Regions from separate parts of the Homo sapiens genome. Here all the other regions are linked to region 2. Evidence: fine-mapped expression QTL. A gene starts in region 2. Each other region holds a variant in brackets. All regions are shown on one strand. Distances are between the middles of the regions. Region 1 holds the start of LOC107985409 (a long non-coding RNA gene). Region 2 holds the start of SIRPB1 (signal regulatory protein beta 1). Region 3 overlaps SIRPB1 (signal regulatory protein beta 1).

Evidence for each region.
Region 1: its variant is fine-mapped to the expression of SIRPB1 in whole blood (TOPMed, PIP 0.93).
Region 3: its variant is fine-mapped to the expression of SIRPB1 in whole blood (INTERVAL, PIP above 0.99).

The regions. Positions count from the first base shown.
Region 1 is chr20:1,555,985-1,564,527 of GRCh38, reverse strand. It overlaps SIRPB1 (signal regulatory protein beta 1), which reads left to right. Exons shown (of 6, transcript NM_006065.5): 6 at 1-3,143. LOC107985409 (a long non-coding RNA gene) reads right to left here and starts at 6,521. Exons shown (of 3, transcript XR_007067493.1): 1 at 6,404-6,521; 2 at 3,863-3,983; 3 at 2,991-3,076. SIRPD (signal regulatory protein delta) reads left to right here and starts at 6,823. Exons shown (of 4, transcript NM_178460.3): 1 at 6,823-6,947. The coding sequence starts at 6,875. The variant A/T (reference allele first, on the strand shown) is at 4,618.
Region 2 is chr20:1,615,718-1,624,260 of GRCh38, reverse strand. SIRPB1 (signal regulatory protein beta 1) reads left to right here and starts at 4,252. Exons shown (of 6, transcript NM_006065.5): 1 at 4,252-4,392. The coding sequence starts at 4,317.
Region 3 is chr20:1,567,086-1,575,628 of GRCh38, reverse strand. It overlaps SIRPB1 (signal regulatory protein beta 1), which reads left to right. Exons shown (of 6, transcript NM_006065.5): 3 at 3,592-3,909; 4 at 4,492-4,824. Among named protein-coding and RNA genes, the nearest start is that of SIRPD, 14 kb to the right of the region's middle. The variant A/G (reference allele first, on the strand shown) is at 4,711.

The sequences.
Region 1 (8,543 bases), 60 kb after region 2:
TCATTTTTCAGCCACAGTGATTCTTTGGAAAAGTCAAATCATATCACTTCTCTGCTTCTTCCCCAACACAGCTGCATGGCTCCCGCTCTCCCTCCTTCAAGTCTCTGCTCAATGTCACTTCATTAAAGGCACCTTCTATAAACTACCTTGTATAAAATATTATTTATTTTCTCTATCCCGGCATTCTAATTTCTCTTATCCTAATTAATTTTTCTTTAGCCCTTATTTTGATGAGTATTATGCCGAATACAGGCAGCCCTCACTTTTCATGGCAGTGCAAGATTGCAAAAATGACTGTGCAACCTGAAACCCAGGAAAGCAGTCTCCATAGTCAATCAGAAAAACAATGATCATTCTGTGACCTTTACCATTTTTTGTCAAAATATTAGAAACTCTCACACTCTCAGTTACAAATGTAGAGGACAATGAAAATATAATGAAATAAATATTTATTTGTGCACTACAATTCAAAGCATTAGAAACATTGAGAGTTCAAGTGCTGTTTCTTTGTAAAAATGTATCCAGAGTAGTTGGAAGAGTGCTTGCCTTTTTTTGTATATTTCTAATATGGAGTGATATAGTTTGGCTCTGTGTCTCCATCCAAATCTCATCTTAAATTGTAATCTGCATGTGTTGTGGGATGGGCCTGGTAGGAGGTGACTGAATCATGGGGGCGGACTTCCCCCTTGCTGTTCTTGTGATAGTGAGTTCTCATAAGATCTCAGTGAGTTCTCATGAGATCTGGTTTTTTGAAAGTGTGTGGCAAGTCCCCCTTCGCTCTCTCTCTCTCTCTCCCTCCTGCCACCATGTGAAGAAGGTGCCTGCTTCCTTTTCTCCTTCCACCATGGTTGTAAGTTTCCTGAGGCCTCCCAGTCATGCTTCCTGTTAAGCCTGTGGAACTGTGAGTCCAATTAAACCTCTTTTATTCATAAAATATCCAGTTTCTGGTAGTTCTTTATAGCAGTGTGAGAATGGGCTAATACACGGAGCAAGCATTGTTTCTTTTCATTTGTTTATTTTATTTTTATTTTTTTGAGATGGAGTTTCACCCTTATTGCCCAGGCTGGAGTGCAATGTCGTGATCTTGGCTCACTGCAACCCCCGCCTCCAGGGTTCAAGTGATTCTCCTGCCTCAGCCTCCTGAGTAGCTGGGATTACAGGCATGTACCACCACACCCAGCTAATTTTGTATTTTTAGTAGAGATGGGGTTTCTCCATGTTGATCAGACTAGTCTTGAACTCCCGACCTCAGGTGATCCACCTGTCTTGGCCTCCCAAAGTGCTGGGATTACAGGCATGAGCCACCATGCCTAGCCAGCAAGCATCATTTCTATTATACCTTGGTGTTTTGCCATCTTTCTAAGTTTGGACTAGCTTCCAACATCTTATCCCTTGAATTTTCAATATTGTGGAATCACTCCAGAAGATCCTTTCATGTGAAGTTTTTTGCTGGCATTTCAACCTTTGGGACATCTTCAGCCCTTTTATTACCACTCCTCTCCCATTTGTGGCAGTTTGCGTTTACTACCTCCCTCTGGCTGCCTATCTGAAGTTCCTGCATCAGGGTCTACATTGCCACAGTCAACTATTTGTACTTCTAGAATTCCACTCACATTCAATTTGAACCTCACTTGCAGCATTTTCACTTCTCATTTCTTCACTGCACTTTCATCTTGGTTGCAAAATTCCTCTTTCAATTATTCATTTCTGTAAAATGTCATATGGGCTCATCACTGGGAGGCAAGGAGGCAACCCAACTATAGGATTTGCTGTTTGAGTAGGAGAGCCATAGGGACCAATCACCAACAGACTTTGAAAGACACAACATGACTGGTTACTGATCATGACGAGCTTTTATTACCATGGTGATTTGTGGACTGAAGAGCTAGCCCAGAAGTTTGTACTCTATGCAAATTACATTAAATTTACTATGGCACCTAAATTTTGAGACTTGTGTTGTGGGACTGATGTTACTTAACTAAACTATGGTAAGAGAAATGCATGCATGTCATCACCAAAGTGAGAACTGCCTGTATTTATCTATGTTACGCAAATGGAATGTCAGTTATATCGTGGGGGGTTGGGGGTGGGGGAGGATTATCTGTATCCTCAGTTGCCAGAACTGTGTCTGCCATATAATAGGCTGTCAATTTTTTTAAATGAGTGAATACATCATTGAGGTCATTGGTTTCTACTAGGTGTTGGATTTCAAAAGAAAACTTCTCTTCATTTGATCACTTGGCTTGTGTGCTGTATTCTCAAGCTCTTTCTTTAAAGACTACTCTCTCTTCTTTCTGTTTAAAACATTCCATCAAAAATTCAACATCCTCTAGAAAGTAAGAAAGTGCTAACAAGAAAAAAAAGTCAACCCCAAAACCAAAACCCACAGTGACTGGAGTACATCAAAGAGGCGCAGGAACCAACTGAAAGAGCTCCCAAAGGCCAAAGCTGGAACACTTTCAGCAAAAAAATAAGTAAAGTAGTAATGAGTTATAGTCCAAAGTATAAAATAAATATCTGAGTCCATACTGATATAAATAAATGATTGAATAAATTAATGGGAAAGAAGAGAAGAATCTCCAGTGCAGAAGAGTCCCAGATAATTTATTTATACACTCCACTCTAAAGGAGGTGGAACATAACTTCCACTCCTGAAGTGTGGGCTGTGCACTGCGACTTCTTTGCAAAGAGTACAGCATGGAAAAAAGGAGAAAAAATAACTTTACAGTGGAAAAATCTGACAAATACAGCTTCAGCCAGGTGATCAAGAGTTCATCAACAGTTATAAATCAACATCAAGAATCATAAATCATGTCACTAATATGTACCTTTAATATGATGTGATGAAGATGACACTTTTCCTCTATTACCTTCCCCCCAAAACTCACAACCCCAATCTAATCATGAGGAAAACATCAGACAAATTTCAATAAGGAGGCATTCTGCAACATCGGGCCCAGAACTCCTCAAAACTGTCAAGGTCATCAAAATCAAGGAAAGTCTAAAAAACTGTCATAGCCAAGAGAAGCTTGAGGAGATATGACAAGTAAATGTAACAGGTATCCTGGATGGGATGCTGGAAGAGAAAAACGACATTAGGTAAAAAGAAAAGATCTAAATAAACTATGAACTTTGATTAATCATAATGTATCAATATTGGTTCATTGATTATAATAATGTATCATATCAATGTAAGATGCTAATGATAGGGCTCAATTTTTCTGTAAATCTAAAGCTGTCCTTAAAAAATTAAGTCTATTAGAAAAAATTAACGTCTTGTCCTCAGCTAGGTTTTATTTGCCTCTTGTACCCCGTGGGGAACAATGCAAGGAAATGTGCGGTAGGGAGACTTTGTTGATATTCCAAAGTTTTATCTCACTTCAAAAGCCTGAGGTTTCCTTTCCTCTCGTCCTTCCTCTGTCCACTACCAGAGCTCACCCCAGATCTAGGCACTCAGATCCCAGAGGAAGTGGCTTCTCAATCCCCCGTGATGCTCACCCTAAACTTTTCCCATTAGTAAAATCCAGGTCAGACCAAGTGGGATCAGAAAACTTTGGGTTATGTGGGTGAGCTGGGATAGCTTTGAGGACCTGACTATGAGTGAGTGAATAATGTCCTGAGCCCAAGTCTTCACAGGAACAAGTTGTTCCCATGAATTGTGTAATGGATGCTGAGAGGCACCTGGCTGTGGAGATGGTCCTCAGCATCAGCTCTATTTGCGATTGTCTCAGCTGAAGGGAGTGCCCTTGCTTAGGTCGTATCTGGTAACAAACCACATCTCATTGGACTCATCAACCTAGTCGTATAAAGGCCCAGCTCTCTTATCCTAACTCAGAGCAACTCTGGAGGAATATCCTAGTACCAGGCTCCATGCAAGGTCAGCTGAGGTCTTCAATGGGACTTCATTGCAGCCCAGCTTCTTCTTCTACCCAGTCCTGCTTCCATCTTCTCCCGTCCACAAGTGTTGATCCTAAAAGTACTCCCTGAAAGATAACCTGCTTGTTCATCTTCACCCCAGAGTCTGTCTCCCAGGGAACCCAACCTGGGACAGTGAAGCTATGCTACGTATCAGAAAGGTGGGGATCCCTTCATCTCTAAGGGAGCAAGTCAGTCACAGAAGAAAGCCTTGTTTATAGTACCTCCAGATTAATGAGAATCCACAAAAATGTTTATTCAAGAGAGGGACATAATTAAATCTATGTTGTAAAAAGACCAGTCTGGCTGAAGAAGGAGAAAGAGATTATAGGGGGCAAATAAAAATGGGGGTACCCTAGTGAGAAGGCAATTGTTCTTATTCAGGCAAGAGATGATGATAGAGATGGAGAAAGAGATTAATTCAGAAGGGATTTAGGAGGTAAATCCAATAGGGCCTGGTAGGGGCAAGATAGGAGTGTGAAACTATGCCCCCAAAGAGTTAAAGAAACCAGTCACTAAGAAATTCTTGAGTTTACAGGATAGCAGATAAGAAAAAAAAAAAATTGCTAAACTGCCGAAACTTCCTCCACTTGTAGGATAACAAAACTGACTAAAATCTGTTGGAACCAATATGGCCAACTGGAGTTTGCTCAGAATGAGCTTGCTGATGTCACAGCCTGAGTTTCTACCACGTATTTCATG[A/T]TGACGCCCCAGGGTTTTGCACATGGGAGCCGTGAAGAGGCATAGAGAGATAACTGTACATGCCCAAGGACTTTCCAGACCTCCCCTTTCCTTTCACAAATCACATACTAATCCCAGAATCCAACCCCTAAACTTTTGCTAATAAAACTACTGCCTTGAAGCCAGCACATGGAGCTAGATTTGAGGTAGACTTCTGTCTTCCTGTTAGTCAACTTGCAATAAAAAGCTTTTCTTTTCTCAAAAGCCTGGTGTCACAGTATTGGCTTCTAGCACATCAGGCAGCAACCCCCTTTCACTTGGTAACAAGTGGATAAGTGAGGGTATAGAACATGAGTCCCTTCCTGGTTTGACAAACTGCTTAGATGATGGTACCATATACAAAACAGGCATGGTGTGGGAGAAGATAAGGTTTGTGAGTGCAGATCTGAAACTCAAACTTGAATATTTAAGGTATACAAAGAGGCCAGGCTCAGTGGCTCACACCTGAAATCCCAGCACTTTGGGAGGCTGAGGCAGGTGGATCATCTGAGGTCAGAAGTTCGAGACCAGCCTAACCAATATGGTGAAACCCTGTCTCTATTAAAAATACAAAAATTAGCCAGGCGTGGTGGTGGGCGCCTGTAGTCTCAGCTACTCGGGAGGCTGAGGCAGGAGAATCACTTGAACTCGGGAGGCAGAGGTTGCAGTGAGCCGAGGTCATACCATTGCACTCCAGCCTGGGCAACAAGAGCGAAACTCTGTCTCGAAAAAAAAAATACATATATATATATATATACAAATGAAGATGTCAAGAAGGTTGCAGAATATACAGGTCTGTATCATGGGCCCAAGATTACTCAGCTCTTAGGAGGTGCGTTCAGGATTCTAGCCTAGATTATATCTGATTCCAAAGCTGGCACTCTTGGATACTGACCCGTGAGTACTGACTCTCCAAGGAACTTAGAGTCTAATGAAAGGTGAGAAGATTCCTCAGAGTAGGGGAAGGGGAGGATGATGGAGGCTGGAGGAATGTTCCTGTCTAGTTCCAAGCAGGGGCCATGGATAGGAATTCCTTTGTGGAATTCATCATTTCAGAACAACGGGATAGGATGATGACATCACAAGGGGATGGGGACTCTTGTCGTCTCAGAGAGAACGTGCCAGCCTGGCTCTGCTTTCTTTTCCTAGAGGGTCTAACACCTCTCCCGGCCCTGACATCTAGCTGGTTCCTGAGGAGGAGGCAGAAGTCATGAGGAGGCAATGGGGAAACAGCCATGGCAGCCAGTGCCTGCCTGTGGATGCTTGGACATTAAAGGGTCACCAGCTGAGTGTGGGCTGAGTGTCCCTGAACACAACATTTGTGCTTAGGAAGAACCCATTCCAGAGCTGAGAGAGAAGGATGCCAACATGCTGCTTCCTCCCTCTTTCTGGGGGCATTTCTTCTGCCCCTCCAATCCCATCTCTGAGAGCTGGTCCCAGGTCCAGCCCAAGCAGGAGAGGCAGCCCTCACCTTCCCAGGTGTTTGTAGGCATGTTACTCTCCCTCCTAGAGAGTGTTCCCCGCAGCTCCGCCTTCCCTGCAGGCCTCCTCCATCCTCTAAAGCACAAATCATCACCACCTGCACAACTCGAATGTCTTTCTCAGCCATGCCTGATTCCTCTGCAGGAAGGAAAAAGGAAGCAGTTCCTGGTAGTGTATGGAGGGACCCACAGAAAAGCCAAGAGCCCACAGCAGATATTGCTTGTTTTTTACCTCTAACTACTCTGGAGTGCAAGAAAGGGCATCCATTGTAAAGTCCAACTCTTACCAAGTGGGTGAGGCTATAGACATCTTGTCTCTTTCTTCAGCTGTGCAGCTCAGACAGGCCCAGATGTTGAGCTCATGCAGGAGCTAGACCCATACCTGCGCATCATGTGGATGAGGCCTTTGTCTAGCCTATGTGTCTGAGGCTCCTAGATAGGCAAAGGCCATGAAGTTGGGGAGAACCTGTGAGATGGGATGAAACTCAGGAAGGAGTATAAGGCTGTGGGTGTCAAGCCCCCCAGCCCCAGCAAAGCTAAATACTTCCAGCAGCAACTTCCTAGCTTGAAGCAACCTTGTCTGTTCAATTTTATAATCACAAAGGAAAAAGTGTCCCAGTCCCCTGGCCTTTCCTCTCATCACAATCCCCTTCCTCTGACATCACAGAGGCAAGAACTGTCTTCTCTGCTCGGAGCACTGAGTCGAGGGCATCTCCAGGACAGGCATTCAGGCAGAGCAAGCTCCAGGTTTCACCACAATGCCCATCCCTGCCTCCCCACTCCACCCACCTCTGCCTTCCTTACTGCTGTATCTGCTGCTTGAACTGGCAGGTGAGTGGGGCCTCAGTGTATGTGTGTGGTGGGTTCTCCCCTCTGCCTGTTTAGTGAACTCTCCCTCACCTGTTCCCATAGAATTTCTTTTGGGAGGGTTTTCTCCATCTTATCCCAGAACAGGCAGAACTCAGAAGACTACACTGGGATGGTCCCCAATTCTGACAAAGTCTCCCGGTGGCCATGTCTGTTGCAAATCTCTTTGCTCAGGTAAACGACTCACACCTATGGTCACAGGGCGGGGCACAGCATCCATCACAGCTCTCACCCTCCAGCCTCTGGAGGGTGTAATTTATTTTATTTTATTTTTACCTTTACTTATTTTTTTGAGACAGGGTCTCACTCTGTCACCTAGGCTGGAGTGCAGTGGTGCGATCTTGGCTCACTACAACTTCCACCTCCTGGGCTCAAGTGATTCTCGTGCCTCCAACTCCCAAGTAGCTGGGACTACAAGCACGCGCCACCATGCCCAGCTAATTTTTGTCTTTTTTGTAGAGATGGGGTTTCACCATGTTGCCCAGGCTGGTCTCAAACTTATGAGCTCAAGAGTTCCACCTGCCTCGGCCTCCCAAAGTGCTCGCATTATAGGCGTGAGCCACCACACCTGGCCCCTGGCAGATTTTACACTTCTTTCTGTGAAATTCAGTTTTTTATTTCTCTGTTGCCACTGCATTTGGCTGCTCTTAAAAAGTACTGCAAACTGGGTGGTTTAAATTACAGAAATTAATTTTCTCACAGGTCTGGAGACTAGATATTCAAAATCGAAGTGTGGGCAGGGTTGGTTCTTTCTGAGGACTGTGAGGTTGAATCTGTTCCATGTCTGTCTCTGAGCTTCTAGCAGTGGTAGCCTCAAACATTTGTTGGATGGCAGGTGGCACCACCCTCCCTGTATCCTCACATCATCTTACTCCCATGTATGTCTGTCTCTGTGTCCAAATTTCCACTTCCTATAAAAACATCCACCATATTGGATTAGCACCCACCTCAATGACCTCATTTTAACTTGATTTCCTCTGTAACTCTATTTCCAAGTAAGGTCACATTCTGAGCTACTTGTGGTTAAGACTTCAACATATATTTCGGAGGCATACAATTCAACTCATAATAGCCTCAACATGAAATTTTAATAACTTAGATATATTCTTTGTTGGTTTATGTACTGCATTTATATCTGTCTGTGCTTTATACATAGGAAGGGTAACTATAAAGCTTCCTCTTTTTATTCAATGGAGAGTTAAGGATGACTAAAAATATTTAGGTAAAAGCTAACTTAAGATACTTAAAGCTAGTAAAACTCACTTGAATTTTTAACTGTACTTATTGGGTGAGGTACACAGACTGTAAGGTGACTCCCAACTATCCCACCCTTATGTAATCTCAGTTGTGTGTGACATGCTTCTATCTGATAGAATATGGCCAAAGTGATGCACTGTCTCCCCCTTGAGTATGTTAGGTTGTGTAAGATCTATCACACTAGAGTTTTTTTGCAACTTCTGGCCTTAAAGAAGCAAGGAGCCATGTTGCAAACTGCCTGTGAGAAGGCCCACATGGCAATGAACTGAGGGAAGCCCCTAGAAGTTGAGGGCCTCAGTCCTA
Region 2 (8,543 bases):
ACTAAAAATACAAAAAAAAAAAAAAAATTAGCCAGGTGTGGTGGTGCATGGCACACACCTGTAGTCCCAGCTATTTAGCAGGCTGAGGCAGGAGACTCACTTGAACCCGGGAGATGGAGGTTGCAGTAAGCCAAGATTGCACCACTGCACTCCAGCCTGGGTGACAGAGTAAGACTTTATATCACACACAAAAAAGAAGAAGCAGTTACCTCGCTGCTTCTAACAGCCTAATTCATATGCGTAAGCACAGAGATGACTTGAAACTGGAACTTATATTTAAAAGGGAAGCAGAGCATAAAAGCTTGGAAAATTTGCAGCCTGGACATGTGGTAGAAAAGAAAGGCCCATTTTCAGGCAACGAATTCAAGCAGGCTGTGAACTTTGCATGAGTAAAAAGAAGCCAAATGCTAATATTGAAAACACTGGGAAAAGCCTTCAAAGGCATTTCAGAGACCATCTCTTTACAGGCACAGAGGTCTAAGAGGGAAGAATGGTTTTGAGAGCCAGAACCAGGGCCTGCTGCCGTGTGCGGCCTTCGGACACGGCCCACTGCACCGCATTCACTCCAGCTCCGGTCTTGGCTCGAAGGGGCTCGAGTATATCTCGGCTGCTGCTTCAGAGGGTGCCAGCCATAAGCCCTGGTGGCTCCATGTGGTGTGAATTCTGCAGGTATGCAGAGTACAAGAGCTGAGGATTGGGAGCCTCTGCCTAGATGTCAGAGGATATATGGAAAAGTCTAGATGTCCAGGCAGAAGCCGGAGCCCTCATGAAGAACCTCTACTAGGGCAGTGCAGAAGGGAAATGTGGGGTTGGAGCCCCCACACAATTCCCACTGGGGCATTGCCTAGTGGAGCTGTGAGAAGAGGGCCACCTTCCTCCAGACCAAAGATTGATAGATCCACTAGCAGCTTGCACCATGTGCGGGGAAAAGCTGCAGGCATTCAACACCAAGTATGAGAAGAACCGTGGAATTTGAATTTTGCAAAGGCACAGAGGTGGAGCTGCTCAGGTTTTGGGAGTGCACCCCTTCCACCAGTGTGCCCTGGATGTGAGACATGGAGTCAAAGGAGATAATTTTGGAGCTTTAATGGCTGCCCTGCTGGGTTTCAGATTGCATTGCATAGGCCTGTATTCCCTTTCTTTTGGGCAATGTATCTCTTTTGAAATGGGAGTATTCCCATTCAGATGGCTAAAGCCAATGCCTATACCCCATTGTATCTTGGAAGTAACTGACTTATTTTTAATTTTACAGGCTTATAGGTGGAAGGCACTTGCCTTGTCTCAGATAAGACTTTGGACTTTTGACTTAATACTGAAATGAGTTAAGACTTTGGGGGACTTCTGGGAAGGTATGATTGTATTTGCAATGTGATAAGGACATAATATTTGAAAGTGGGCAGGAGAAAATGATAAGGTTTAGATCTGTGCCACCACCAAAATCTCATGTTGAATTGTAACCCCCAGTGTTGGAGGTAGGACCTGGTGGAAGTTGGCTGGGTCTTTGGGTCAGATTTCCCTCTTGGTGCTGTTCTCATGATGATGAGTGAGTTCTCATGAGATCTGGTGGTTTTAAAATGTGTGGCACCTCCCTACTCTCTCTCTCCCTCCTGCTCTGGTCGTGTAAATATGCTCACTTCCCCTTCACCTTTTGCCATTTTTGTAAGTTTCCTGTGACCTCCCAGAAGCTGATACCAGCATTATGCTTCCTGTAAAGCCTCTGAAACCATCAGCCAATTAAACCTCTTCTCTTTATCAATTACCCAGTCTCAGTCTCAGGTATTTCATTATAACAATTATAGAAAGAACAGATTAATACATCCACCTATTTGTTTTTTAAACAATTTAGCACTAATTATATTTTTTCAAAATTCTTCTTTTTATTACTTTTCTCAGATACCTGTTGTTACTGCACACCTACCTATTCTTGTTTCACACGTGACTTTGTTTTATGGATTTACTTTCTTTTCATTATCTCTATAAGGTTACTAAATATGTTAATGTTAAAAATATTTTCACATTTTATATTTTTATTTTCTGAGGTATTATTTTCTAAGATGTTATTTTCATTGCTGTTTTTGTTTTTTAGTTATTGTTTTTGAATTTATTATGATGTCGCTTTTCCCCAAATCTTTAGTGATTACTGCTTTCACTGTAATCTTTACAGGAATAATGCCCTGAGTGATCATGGGCTGTCAGCACTTTATGGAACATGGCACCTATCCCAACCTTGCTGTGGAGGCTGCGCCTAATTGACGTTATGGCTTCTTCTCTGCTTCCTTCCTGAGAGATATCTCTCCCTTCTTATGAGAGGTGTCATAGTGAAGGCCATGGAGTGTGACAACCTGTGTTCTAGTTCTAAAAGCTGGGTGATGTTGAACAAATGTATTATTGCCTGCGTGCCTCAAGTTTCCTCACCTATAAAAAAAGGTTAATGGTAGTGCTAATTTCATGGGACCAGAGTGATGAATTAATGAGGTAACTGACAAAATGCTTGGCACAGTACCTGGAGCACAGGACATCTGCAGTAAACACAGCAGCTACTACCCTTCATGTCATATAGAGACTAGTTTCTTGTTTTAAAGTGTAATTTGGCATCGATTAACATGATTTTATCATTTTTATATTCATTTCTGTGAGTGTGGAGCAGGAGGTGATGATTTCACCCTCTGTGCATCTGCCACATTGAAAAAGAAATTTGCATGGAAATGTGATGACTTTTACAATTTCATTTGACAATTACTCATGATAGGTGAAGGATTGCAAGCCCAGCATGGGAAAGAGAGGTTTCCAGACAGGTCTTTCTTAGTCACAGATGATGGAGGAGAAACCATTTCTCCTACCAAGGAAATTTTTCTAAAGCACAAGTATGTCAGGGAAGCAGTGAACTCACCCTGTACACAAATGTAATTATAGCCACAATTTTTTGGTTATAATTAAATATGAATCAAACCTTCTGTATGGCTTATATTACTCTTACCATATCACTACAAGGTGCATGTTATAACTTCCATTTACATGTAATTAAGTTAAGGCTTAGAGAAGTCAAGTGTCTTGTTGAAAGTCACACAGCTGGAGATTGTAAGAAAAGGAATTCATCTACAGATTGACAAAAAGCAGGGTGAAGAGGATCCAGAGGGAGAAATTGATCTCAGAGTGTCAGAGGTAGACCAAGTACACCATAAAAGCTGGGTTCCAGAAGTCCGGGGAACATGGGAGAAGGCCACTGGTGGGAAACTCAGCATGCAGTAGAAATCCATTTAAAAGCAATATTTGAGTTCCCTCTCTTCACCTGGCACCATGAGTATCAATAATAACCTACTGAATCTCAGGGATGTATAGTCATTATCTCTTTTGATGTTCACTAAAACATGGCAGTGAGACTTATTATCCCAAGGTTAGAAGGCAAAACTGAACCTAGGCAGGCCCAGTAACTTCCCCAACTCCTTAGCACATCTTCTTAGGGTATTTATTCTCCCTCCCTCCTCAGTTCCCATCTGAAGACAGTGATGAATGGAATAGGTGTTCTATGTGCAGAGCAAAGAGTATTGAAATCGATGTGACTGCTCCAGGAATCTGCCCTCCATATTCTCCCCCATAATAAACATATCCCCTTTCCATAACCCATAATCCCCACCTCACCTCACAAAGCAGATCCTTATTACCCTAAGCCCACTTCCTCTCCTGGAAGAAGTCAGGAAATAATTCCTTCTGCTGGGTGCAGGCATATGAAAGTGCTAACGGCCACATGAGACTGAATTTGGGCTAAGTTTTGCCATTTATATTTATAAAAGTTCGGAATAGGGAACCATTTCAAGAGCAGACCTGTTCCTCTCCAACACTGAGCAGGTCCAGTGATCCCTCATCCTGCCCCAACTGAGTAGCACTTGGTTGAGGCTGTTGTAGAATGAGACCACAAGCCAACCACATCCTGAGGTCTTGAGATGGAAAGTTTAGGAAACATTTCATAACCACAGGTCCTTCCTGGCTTAAGAGCACCAAATGGCAAATCACCAAGAAGACATAAAGATGGGGTTAGGAGTCATGGAAGGAGTTAAGACCTCAGGTGGGAAGGAAGCATTATTTCTGCTAAGCCTGTCTGATTCTCCTGAAATGGGGCATGCATAACTGCTTGCATTGTAGCTGCTTGCTGTTCCTGATTTCTGTTTCACAATCCAGAAGCAGGTTACTGCTTCACTCCATCGCAGCCACTTCCTCTTGAACTAAGGGAGGCAGGGCTTGTCTTCTCTCCTCAGAGCAGAGTCTGCGATCTTCCCAGCACAGACGTTTGGACAGAGCAGGCTCCTAAGGTCTCCAGAATGCCCGTGCCAGCCTCCTGGCCCCACCTTCCTAGTCCTTTCCTGCTGATGACGCTACTGCTGGGGAGACTCACAGGTGAGCACTGCCTTCGGTTAAAATCTTTTTTCCTGCCCACTGAGCCATGGCCTGTCCCTGGACTTTCAGGGATTCCGGACAATGACAAGTGCTGCCAAGAAAGGCCAAGGATTAGGCTTTGACTGAGAGCAGAAAATCAGGGAGCTGAGCACTTTCTCTGTGGATCTGCAGCTGGCTACCAGAGGCATTGAACCACAGGACGATTCAACCACCACAACAACAATTACTTACATTTTGATAATATTTCAATTGAAAAAGCAGAGAAGAATCATTATCTAAATCCTCACCAGTCCTGAGGCCCTAGGGCCAAGTGACATGCCCAAGTCCACAGAGTAAGCTCAGAGACACCCTAACAGGGTTATGTGGCTCTAGGCCCAGCCCTCTCTCTTCACCAAACTGAGGATGTGAAGTCTGTAATAGTGCTCACTTGAGTAGGGCAGTGGTGTGGTGTATCCTGGGAGTGTTCAGCCACCATCCTCCCTAAGGGTGCTCCTCACTTTGTCCTCTGTTCCCCCATGCTCCTCCCTCCCCTGTGACCTGATTCTTACCACCCATTTCTCTGTGGCCTCTTCCTCTTTAAGAAGTTCCACATTTGCTGCTTACTGGGTCCTATATTCCTTTCCTAGGGCTTCCATAACAAAGAACTGCAGGCTGGGTGGCTGAAACTACAGATATTTACTTCCTTGCAGTTAAGGAGGCTGAAGTCCAAGATCAAGGTGTCAGCAGGGTTAGTTTCTACTGAAGTCTCTCTCCTTGGCTTATACAGGGCCATTTTCTCTCTGTGTCTTAAACACATGATCTTCCTCTGTGTGTGTCTGTGTCCTCATCTCCTCTTCTTATGAGAATATCAGTCTTGTTGTATTAAGGCCCACCCCAATGACCTCATTTAACTAAATTACTTCTTAAAGACCCTGTCTCCCAAACTGTAACGTTCAGAGGTGCTGGGGATTAGAGCTTCAACACATGCATTTTGTGGGACACATTCAGCCCATAACAGGTACTACAACCTCCTTTGGTTCTCTTAAATTTCCCATGGATAATTTCTTTCCCCTTCCCAAGACAGGCAGGATTGGAGGGCCTTTCCTGGTGCAGCCTGGGAGAACCCTGCTCACAGCTCCCAGACAAGTTACCTGTCCTGATCCCTTCTCAGGCCATGGAGCTGACCCCAGAACCACAGGGCTGGGCACAGCAGCCTCTCAATTCCCCACTGGGCCCTGCTGTGATGTCACCTCACAGGCCCTAGAGGGCAGGGGTCTCACTTTTCAAATTATTTTTCTCACACATACACTGTACCCAAATGACAGCAGTAAGAGTTTAACAATTGAGCTCTTCCTACCATGTAGACACAGTTATTAGCATTTTGCCTGTTTTAGCTCCACTAATCCTCACAACATCCCTGTGTGAAAGCTGCAACTATTATCCCCTATTTCCAAACAAAGACTCAGGCAGAGGGAGGAACTTGTCCATTCATTGTCCCCTACCTCAGTCAGTGGAGCAGCTGAGATTCAAGTCCAGGTCGACCGGCTCCAAAGTTCATTCTTTTAGTCGTGTTATGCTACTAGCAGAAATATTAGAAAATGCAGGGAAGTAAACATAGAATTAATTATTGCCTACCACACTTGTTAGCAACAACCAGAGTTACAACTGTGATGTATGTACTTCTAAATTTGTTATTAATGTGTTGGATGCTTTCTATGGGCCACATATTTTACTTTCTATGGGCCAGATATTTTAATGAGATTTTAACGTGTGTTGTAATTTTATTTAATACACAAAACAAACTTATATACTATCACAATAGGTCACACTTTGATATATATTTGTGAATGTATATGTGTGTGTCTATATATACATATATATGTGTGTGTGTGTATATATACATATATGTGTGTGTATATATATTTGCAAATGTGTGTATACATATGTGTGTATACATATGTATATGCATGTATGCATATAAGTAAGTGTACATGCACACACAGGAGATTTCATTTTTTATCATTGTTTCTCCAAGTTTCTAATTTCAATGAAACTTTTAACAAAATATTTTATTTTTATTTGACAGAACTGTATATACTTATCATGTATACCATATTAATGAAATATGTGTACATTGCAGAATGCCTAATTTGAGCTAATTAACATATGACCTACCTTGTATATGTATCATTTCTGTGGTGAGATCTCTCAAAATCTGCTTTCAACAATTTTTGAGGTTACGAATTGTGTTATGAACTCTAGACCCCATATTGTACAATAGATTTGTGGAACTAATTTCTCCTAACTAAACTGAAATTTTGTATCCTTTGACCAATATCTCTCCAAATGCACCCCCTGCCTAGTGCCTGGTAACCAATATTCTACTATCTACTTCTATGAGTTCAACTTTTTAAAATTCCACATATGAGAGACATTATGCAGTATTGTCTTTCTGTGCCTGGCTTATTTTACTTAGCATAATATCTTCCAGGATCATTTATATTGTTGGAAATGATAGGATTTCCTTCTTTGGTCAGGCTGATTAGAATTCCATTGTGTATACCAATTTCCTTTCTCCATTTATCTGCTGATGGACATCTAGGTTAATTTAATATCCTGGCTATTGTAAATAATGCTGCAATGGACATGGGAGCACAGATATCTCTGTGACATGCTTATGTCATTTCCTTTGGATGTATGCCCAATAGTGAGATTGCCAGATCATATGATAGTTCTATTTTTAATTTTTTGAGGAGCCTCCATACTGTTTTTGCTAATGGCTCTACTAATTTACATTCCCACTAACTATGTGCAAGAATTCCCTTTTCTCCACATCCTCTCCAAAACTAGTTATCATCTTTTTTATAGTAGCCATTCTAACAAGTGTGAGATGATAGCTCACTGTGGTTTTAATTTGCATTTACCAGATGAATAGTAAGGCTGAGTATTTTTATAGGTCTGATGGCCATTTTAATGTCTTCTTTTGAGAAATGGGTTTTAAGATCTTTGGCCCATATTTTAGTTGGGTTGTTTTCTTAATATTGAGTTGTTTCACTTCCTTATATATTTTGTATATTGACTTTTCATTAGATGCATGGCTAGCAAATATCTTCTTCCATTCTGCTGGTTGTCTTTTCACTCTGTTGATTGTTTCCTTGGCTGTGTAGAAGCTTTTTAGTTTGTTGTAATGCCGTTTGTCTATTTTTCTTTTGTTGCCTGTGCTTTGGGACTCATATCTGAAAATTCATTGCCCACACCAATGTCATGGCACTTTTCTTCCAGTACTTTTACACTTTTAGATCCTACACTTAAGTCTTTAATACATTTTGAATTGATTTTTGTGTGTCATGTGAGAGGAAGGTCTAATTTTATTCCTCTACAGATGGATATCCAGGTTTCCCAATGCCACTTTTTGAAGAGACTGACCTTTCCCAATTGTGTCTGCTTGACATTTTTGTCAAAGGTCAATTGAGTGTAAATGTGTGCGTTTATATCTGGGCTCTCTGGTCTGATCCATTTGTCTATGTGTCTATTTTTATGCCAGTGCCATGCTGTTTTGATTACTATGGCACGGTAGTCAAGTTTGAAATCAGGCAATGTGATGCCTCCAGTCTTTTTGCTCAAGATTGCCTTTTCTACTCACAATTTTCTATGACTAATGTGAACTTGAGGATTGTTTTGTCCATTTCTGAGGAAAATGTCATTGAAATATTACTAATAATGAATTGAATCTGTAGATCTCTTTGGGTAGTATGTATATTTTTAACAAAAGTAATTATCTAATCCACAAGCATGGATATCTTTCCATTATTTTTGTTCTATTTATTTTTCATCAGGGTGTTATAGCTTTTTTTGTGGAGGTCTTTCATGTCCTTGAGTAAATCTGTTTCTAGCTATTTTAGCTTTTTTGGTAGTAATTGTAAATGCGATTACCTTACTGATTTCTTTTTTCAATAAAGTCATAATAATGACAGTAATCAATATACATGATAAATAGGTAAATAAAATCATAAATTAGCCACTGATAAGGGAAAATAAAATAAGGTATGTGTATATAACTTTTATCTTATAGAAATTTTCATATATTCCTATTATTGATGGTATTTTCACAAAAAGATGTCCACATTTCTCAAATGCTGTTTTGCATCAAATGAGATAATCATGTGTTTCTT
Region 3 (8,543 bases), 49 kb after region 2:
CCATGTTGTGTTGTTTCCTCTTCACTCAGCAGCGTCCAATGAGCAGAGTCGAGCCTCCTGCAGCCCAGCAGAGCACGTATCTGCCCGTTCATGGTGCTGAGGACTAAGGATGAGGAGATGAGGCATTTCCTAGAGAGTGTTTGGGGCCCATGTGAGCAAGAGTTGAGATTCTCCCCTCCGGCTGTCAGGAGCCCACTGTCTTTTGCTTATGGCTGCAGGGTAACCAGGCCTGGGCACCCAGGAGGGAGGCTTCTCCCTAACATTGCATGAAGTCTAGAATCTCAAAGGGACAATTGAGGTGGCAGTCAGTGTTGGAGCTCAAGAAGTTAGAACACTTGCTCTGTTAATGGACATAAGTGCTTGGTGGGACACAGGAAATGCCCACTGGGACACATGGAGAATCGGGAGACAGTGCCTTCATTTTGTTCAGCCACGGCATCTTCATCTGTAGAATAGAGACAATCATGGACTCCTTTAGGAAAGTCGTAAGCGTAAGGTTCTCTCTGTAAATCACCTAGCACACTGTAGGCACCCCCAAAGTGAGGTGTTATTTCAAGATCGTGTGATCTTGGGCCAGTCTTGCCTTCCCTTGAGTCCTCGGTTTCCCCATCGGTGAGATGCTGATTATCATGGCCTATTCTGGGTTCTGTGAGGATTGGAGAGGATGTGCACAGAGCCCCTAATGGTGGTGTCATTCAGGTTATTACTGAGCTTCTGCAGAACTGTCGTTAGGAGAACACAGGCAGTATCCCAGCTGCCTGGGCCTCTTCCCGGCTCTGCCACTTCCTGGCTCTGTGACCTGGGACAAGGTGCTTCACCACCATAGGCCTCGATGTCCTCACCCTTTGATGGTAACACTGACCTCACAGACTGGGCCGAGTCTGAAGGAGTGATATTGTGTAAAATGCTTAGGGCATCAACAAGCACACAGTAAATGCTCAATAAAGGTGAGTTGTGTTAGGGTGAAGCTGTGTGACCTCAGACAGGTCAGGGCATCTCTAGGCCCCAAGTATAAATGGGGTTTGGGTTGGAGTCCAGTGGCTTTCAACCTTGGCTGCTCATTAGAATCATTGGGAAAACTATCAAAAAAAAAGTTTGCAAAGCTGGACCCAGGAACCCCCCTAAAATGCCAATTTAATTGCATCTAATTTGGGCCTGGATATCTAAAGTTCTTAATGGCTCCAGAAGATTCTCATACACAGCCCCCTAGCAAAAGCGGTGCCCCAGGTTTTGGGGCTTTGAGAACAGCTTTTTGGGTCATGGGTGCTTCAAAACAGCCATTCTGGAAACATTCTGGGAGGCCCCAGAAGCCTGAACAGGACCCCTCCCATGCTACTGGCCTCAGGGCCCAAGATAGGAGACTGGGACAAAGCCTGGCTCAGATGCAGCCTCAGGGCTGGGGAACCTTCTGTCTTGAAAACATTTGTATCTAAACACGTGCTGGAGTCCCAGCAAATCCTCACTCCTCAGCCCCAGAAGCCTCCCTCCCTCAGCACTCCCAGATGTCACTGAGGTATCTTTTCCCTCCTTCTTCCAAAATGCTTCCAGCTTCCCCTGTGATCTTACTTGAAAGCCAGTTCGCCAAACATGGTGGTTGCTGCTCCTTTTATCATTTGGGTTTTTTCTGGCAGCTGCGGTGAGTAGGGTTTGAGCCTTTCCTTGGTGTTTGTGTGCCTCTTTGTTCTGTTGCCTAAAGAATAGCTATGCAGCTCCAGAAGCAGTAATGACCAAACCTCATGATTACAGTCACAGGGGTTATTTATTAAGCACCTACTACATGCCAGGCTATGCCCTTGCACTTACCCTCACTCATCTTCCCAGGGTGGGGTTTCTATCTACTTTTGGCCCTTGGCCACCAAGGATCCTCTCAGAGTCTCGCCCTACACAAGGGCTCACATGAGGACCCCCTCTGACAAATAGAAGGAGGATTGAAGTGCTGAGAGGTACAGAGAGAGCAGCCAGCATCAGGCTGCCAAGAAGCCCTCAAAAAATCGGAACTGAAGACAGCCTCTCAGCCTTCTAGGGACACCCATGCTGCTGGTGTCTCAAAGACTTGACATCTTCAAGTGACACCCTCCTTACTGTGCTCTCACATTATTTCACGCATATCAGGGAGCAAGTTAATATTGGCAAAGTCAAACGTATAATATGTGCTTTCTAAGAGGACGGCAGAAGGTTCAAGGTAACAATTAGCAATTTGCAGACACCCTTAAAATTCATCTACATGGAGAAACTGCACTCGTTGTTCTGATTCTCCAATGTGTTTGCTTTCAAGGCCCAGAATAGGTTTCTGTCTGTTGGTGTGGCCTGGGTCTTTGTCTCTTGTAATTAATTAACGATGAAAAAGCTAACCACCTTTGGCTTTCTTAGTACTCAGTGATCCTTGTTTTTCACCCAAACCTGTCCTAACTGAAGATTCAGATTCCCAAAAATTTCCTCTTTTCAAATTTAGGACTTCCAGCAGATTAGAACAACTAACAACAACAGCAAAATGATTGTTAGGAAGGCCAAAGGAAATAGCATTTATCTGAAAGATAAAGAGGTGCAATTTGGGTACACTGAGTCAGTGAAACCCTGAATAGTGTCCCGTATGGCAATACAGGACAGGTTTTTTATAGGGGATTTTCACAAAAGGTTGTTTTTGGAAACAGTTCATTAGCTGGTTGAAAATCCTCAACTGCAAACCCACTCTCATTGGTTATTTCATTAAAGTACTCCAGGTGAAAGAGATCAAAATCCCACGGACCCTGGCTTCAGTTGTTATCCAGGTCTATCTACTGCAACATCCTGTGGCTTGACCTTTAGCAGGTGTGATTCCAATGCTCTTACAAACTCTTGGCTCTACGTTAAAGCTTTATCCTTAATTAATGCCTTTTATTTGACAGAACGAAATATTTGTGAAAAGAAAAATACGGAATGTTTCATATTTTTATAATACCTAAAGAGAGACCTCTGTGTATCTGTAAAGTCTGGGTTAAAGATAGATCTGTGTTTTTTGGGGGAAGCATCTTCTGTGTTTGATCCAGAGCAAAACTGCTTCCATTGCCCCATTGAATCCTGGCGACATCCCAGGAAGTAGAAACGCCGTCCTCCGTCCTCCTGTTTTGCGGATGAGGAGCTGGGGTTGTCAGCCCACCCCTGTCCTGGGCTGAGCAGCCTGGTTGCAGCTCTCACGGTGGTGCCACTTTGCCATTGATCCCTGTATTGGCTTCTATAAATGCCCTCTCTGAGGTTAGTGAGCCTTCCGGGGGAGGACAGCTAGGACCAGTTAATAACATGGAGGGAGACCAATCAGTAATTTTGTTCCTATGCCCAGATTGGTGGAAGTCTCCCTGTGTGGAGAGGACTTTGAACTCAGGCCTGGACTTCCCTCTGGGCCCTGCCCCTACTCACTGTCTGACCATGGCCTGGTTCTCACCTCTAAGAGCTGTTGTGTCCTGATCTGTAAAATGAGAATAAGGACACTGCCTTCACGACATTATTAGAAAGATTAAAAACTAACGTCTCAGAAGGTTCTTAACATGTCAAACGCTTATCATCAGTGATGGTCATCTGAGTCATGTCTCCTGATTATCGATGGTCCTTTTGTAGCCAAACCCTCTGCCCCCGTGGTATCGGGCCCTGCGGTGAGGGCCACACCTGAGCACACAGTGAGCTTCACCTGCGAGTCCCATGGCTTCTCTCCCAGAGACATCACCCTGAAATGGTTCAAAAATGGGAATGAGCTCTCAGACTTCCAGACCAACGTGGACCCCGCAGGAGACAGTGTGTCCTACAGCATCCACAGCACAGCCAGGGTGGTGCTGACCCGTGGGGACGTTCACTCTCAAGTCATCTGCGAGATAGCCCACATCACCTTGCAGGGGGACCCTCTTCGTGGGACTGCCAACTTGTCTGAGGCCATCCGAGGTAGAAGACCCTCACACCCAGCCCAAGCCCACACCTGGCTGCCAAGCCCACTCCCCTCTCCCCAGGCTCCAGAGCTTGAAAGGCCTGGAATCTAATTCCTAACTGTGTTGTCCACCTCCCATGCACCTAGGTGAGCCGGTCACTTACTATCATTTTAATGGCAGCTGTCAGGGGACCAGCAACCATGTGCCAAGCTCTGGGCTACAGAGTTTCATTTATTTCACCAAGAGCAACTACAATTAGTGAGCACCTACTAGGAGCCAAATCACTATGTGCTCGGCGATTTCACTGATTTTGCTACAGTTCTTACATTCCAACTGCATGCCAGGGGTTGTGCTTGTAGATTTCACTCATCCTTAGCCTAGCAGCAGCTAACAGTCCTTGGGCACCTACTGTGCGCCAGGCACTGTGCTTAGTAATTTCACTCATATGCAACGAGTGCCCTCAATGTCTGAGCACCTGCTGCCTGCCTAGCACTGTCCTGGTGATGCCCTCACTGTGTTGGTGGGAGCTACGTTATTTAGCCCTCCCTGTGATCTGTCTGTGCCACAAGATCAGAGCTTCTGCCCTGTGCTGTTTCAGTTCCACCCACCTTGGAGGTTACTCAACAGCCCATGAGGGCAGAGAACCAGGCAAACGTCACCTGCCAGGTGAGCAATTTCTACCCCCGGGGACTACAGCTGACCTGGTTGGAGAATGGAAATGTGTCCCGGACAGAAACAGCTTCGACCCTCATAGAGAACAAGGATGGCACCTACAACTGGATGAGCTGGCTCCTGGTGAACACCTGTGCCCACAGGG[A/G]CGATGTGGTGCTCACCTGTCAGGTGGAGCATGATGGGCAGCAAGCAGTCAGCAAAAGCTATGCCCTGGAGATCTCAGCGCACCAGAAGGAGCACGGCTCAGATATCACCCATGGTGCGGTTACTTCCCATTTTTAAATTTTGTCTTTTTCTTTAATGTTAAAAGCAATATTCATGCTTGTCATAAAATAAGCTAGAAGTCTATAAATATAAAGTAGAATTTTAACGTCTACATTAAAATCCTACACTCCATGGGTCACCACTACTTAGAAGGTTCAAGGTAACAATTGGCCATTTGTAGACACCCTTAAGCCCCATCTACCAGGAGAAACTGTGCGTCAAGTCTGATGCACAACTTGATAGATATTTTGACATAAATATACATTAAAGGAAAAAAGAGAGAGGGAGGTGATCCGTTTGTTTATGAAGTCCTGTGTCTCGCCTTCTTCTGCATTTCTCGCCAGCACAGCACCTTGCCTTTTACACTTTCTAACCTCTACCTTGTCCCTATTCTATCCTAAACTTTTCCATCCGCATCTGTGACCTCAGCCACCAGTCTCCAGCATCTGCTCTATAAATTTCAGAAAGACAAGTGAAGTTTAAGCCTGGACAGACCCCCAGGTGACCTGGTCACAGCACAGGCTTCTTTTGTGTTCTGATGGTGATATTTGACCAACAATAATCACAACCACTCTGCACATTTACTATATGCAAATTTCTGTTCATCTCTGATCTCCTTTCCTGCTTCAAACACCCAGTGAGCTTGGAGTTTTACCAAAGGGGAAACCAGGACTTAGGAAGTAATGAGGGATGTTGTTGAAGACTTCTTGTCATTAGACCAGGTTATTGGTCCAAAGTAATGAAGGTAAATCTAGTCCCTGAGGACAGGCTCACTACCAGGCTATAATGGGAATTTGTGCTAATTAGAGAAACTTTCCCTTTCTGCTGCGCTTTGTCCCAAGGACCCAAATTTGGCCAGTGTTCCCCCTCTCTATAACCAAAATATGTCTTATTTCCCTCTCTTTTAATACCAGGAGGGGTCCCTCTACTCCAGTCGAAAGACAATCTTTGAGTGCTTTGACCCGAATACATCCTCCCACATCTCAGGGTCCCACAACTTCCCCATCAGGGCCCAACCCCAGCATAGAAGCCATTAAAGCTGACATTCAACATCCTTTGTGATTCTGCTACTCTTCTAATGATGGCTGGGGCCCAATCTTCTATTCTTTCTGCCCTGAGGCTCCAGGAAATAAGAATAAGGACTCAGGTTCCTTCCAAAACACCCTATGATGTTTGCGTCATCTCCTGGGTCAGTGCTGAGTCACGGATTTGTTCATGTCCCTGCCTGCCAGAAGAGGAAAGACACGAAATAGAAGACAAACAATGTCCCCAATCATCAGAGATGTGTGGAAGGTGCATAGTCACGTCCACTGAAAACTTGCTCACGCATGCACCTGCAGTTGCACATTGAGGGATCATGTGATCAAGGACATTTTTCACAAAACCAGTGTCATTGTCCACTTAAATTTTAAGTGTTCAAATCACTAAATTTCATAAAGTTATTAAAATAATTTCCTCATATCATCTAAAATGGAGCATACATTCACATTTTACCAAATTTTTTAGAACCATTTTCCTGTGTGTTAAATTTGGTTTTAATTTATCTTTAAATGCTTGTGTTTTCCTTTGAAAGATCTGGGCCCCAGGGATATTTTTGGATATTTTATAATCATAGATTCAATGTCGTTAATAGTTTAGGGTTATTCACATTTTTCGTTTCCTATTGAGTGAGCCCTGGTAAGTTGTGTTTTGCATAACTTTTGGTCCATTTCATCTAAGTTGTCATATTTATGTGTGTAGAGTTGTTCATAATATCCTCTCATAACCCTTTTGGTGTCTGCAGGGTCTGCAATGGTATCCCACGTTTCATCCTGATACTAAAAATGTGTCATTTCTCTTTTCTTTTTCATCAGTCATGCTAGAGTTTTTTCCCATTTTATTGGTGTTTTCAAAAGATTGACTCTTTGTTTCAATGGGTTTTTGTATTGTTTTTGTGTTTTCAGTTTCATTAATTATCTGCTCTCTTCTCTCTTTTTTTTTTTAAATTAATTCCTATCTCCTGCTTTCTTTGGGTTTACTTTGCCCTACTTTTTGTAGTTTCTTTAAGTGCGGGATTTATATTTATTGACTTGAGACCTCCTCTTTTCTATGTCCTCCCTTCATCACTTTCTGTGGCTGGGGGCTGGTATTTGGGCATAGAGTCCCTGCTGTTTGGCTGCTGGGCTGTTCCTCAGTCCTCAGGTTCTTACCTCGCTCTTCCACCTTGGAAGTTCTCCTATGCCTGCTCCTCATGATATTTCTTGGGTTCATAGTTGTACTTCTCAAGGAGGCACAGGATGAGATGAGTCTGTACCATCTGGACAAGGTTGAGTCTTTTCTTAGACTTCCAACCACCCACTGGGGCTGAGAGAGGGCTGCCATTTTTGGGTTCTTTCAGTGTGTCTGACATGGCATCCTGGCACATATGCTAAGTCTGGAAATGCATTTTAGGTTGTCTAGGCTGGCAGGCAAACTGCAGGATGCCTTCTGTGACGTGCTGCATCAGTGGCATGGGAGCCTAGTGAGAGACTGTGCCCTAGGGTTAGGTGAGTGTTCCCTTTTGACTCAGCCATTTTGCAGTTTGGCATTCTCTCTTCAAGCAATATTTAGGGCCTGGATTGTGTAGAATTTACTTTTCCTTTTCTGTTTCTTCTTTTGGCTTGGGGAGGATATTTATAGCGACAAGTAGCGATGCCACTGCAATTGTCCCCAGTAACTCTGAAGTCAACTGACAATCTTTGAGTGGTTTGACCCAAATGTCTCCTTCCACATTTCAGGGTCCCACAACTTCCCCATCAGGGCCCTATCCCAGCATAGCAGCCATTGAAACTGAGATTCATGCTCCGCTGTGATTCTGCTACTCTTCTATGATGCCCAGGACCCAATTCTCTATTCCTTCTGCCCTGTGGCTCCAAGAAATAAGAATCTGCAGTGCTGCCAAGAAGTCCTCTGGCTTCCAGCTGAACTTTAACTCATGATGAATCACTCTTAGTTTCTCATTGCCTTCCTCCCAAGAGTTCATGCCCAGCAACAGCTAACACCTTAGTTCTTATAACGACCATTTCCCAATCTGTTTTCAAAAGGCTAATGGCAAGGAATTTCCTTCCTGTGGTAACACTATCCCAGTTTAGTGCCAGTGAAAGTGTTATCAATCGCAACACAACAGCAAGTCACGGCTTCTCCAGTCCCATTCACCACCAGCCCTGGGGTCCTCATTGCTAGCTGATGAGTAATCAGATTCCCAACTTATATTTTAGAGTCTTCTTTCCAGACCACTTCCCAAGGACAGTTTCTCTGGGAGGCCACCTGAGGATGCATAAAGCAATGCAGGAGGCATCCTAGAGTGCTGTCAGGGTCAACATGCCTCAGGAATGAGGAGGCAGGAGTGTAGGAGGAGGGAGGTGCTGAGCCACAGTGCAGGCAGTACAAAGATGCAGCTGCTCTTGCAGAGAGGCAAAAGGCCGGAGGGTCCTGTAGATTTTTTTCAAATTGAGGGGAAGGGCTGGCCCTTCATATTCCCAATGCAGTCTATCTCTCATGTGGGCTGCCCCTTAGAAGGAATAAACTTGGGCAGTGCAGCTCTCCTCAAAGGAGAGAAAGCCCCAGAGAGCCACCCATCTGAGAACTGCCGGCCTGCAACACTCCAACACTCCAGCGGCTATAGATGCTGAGGTCTCCATTCCTTCCTTAAGGACCCACCAGCACCATTTTATTTTAAAAAAAATTTTTTTTAAT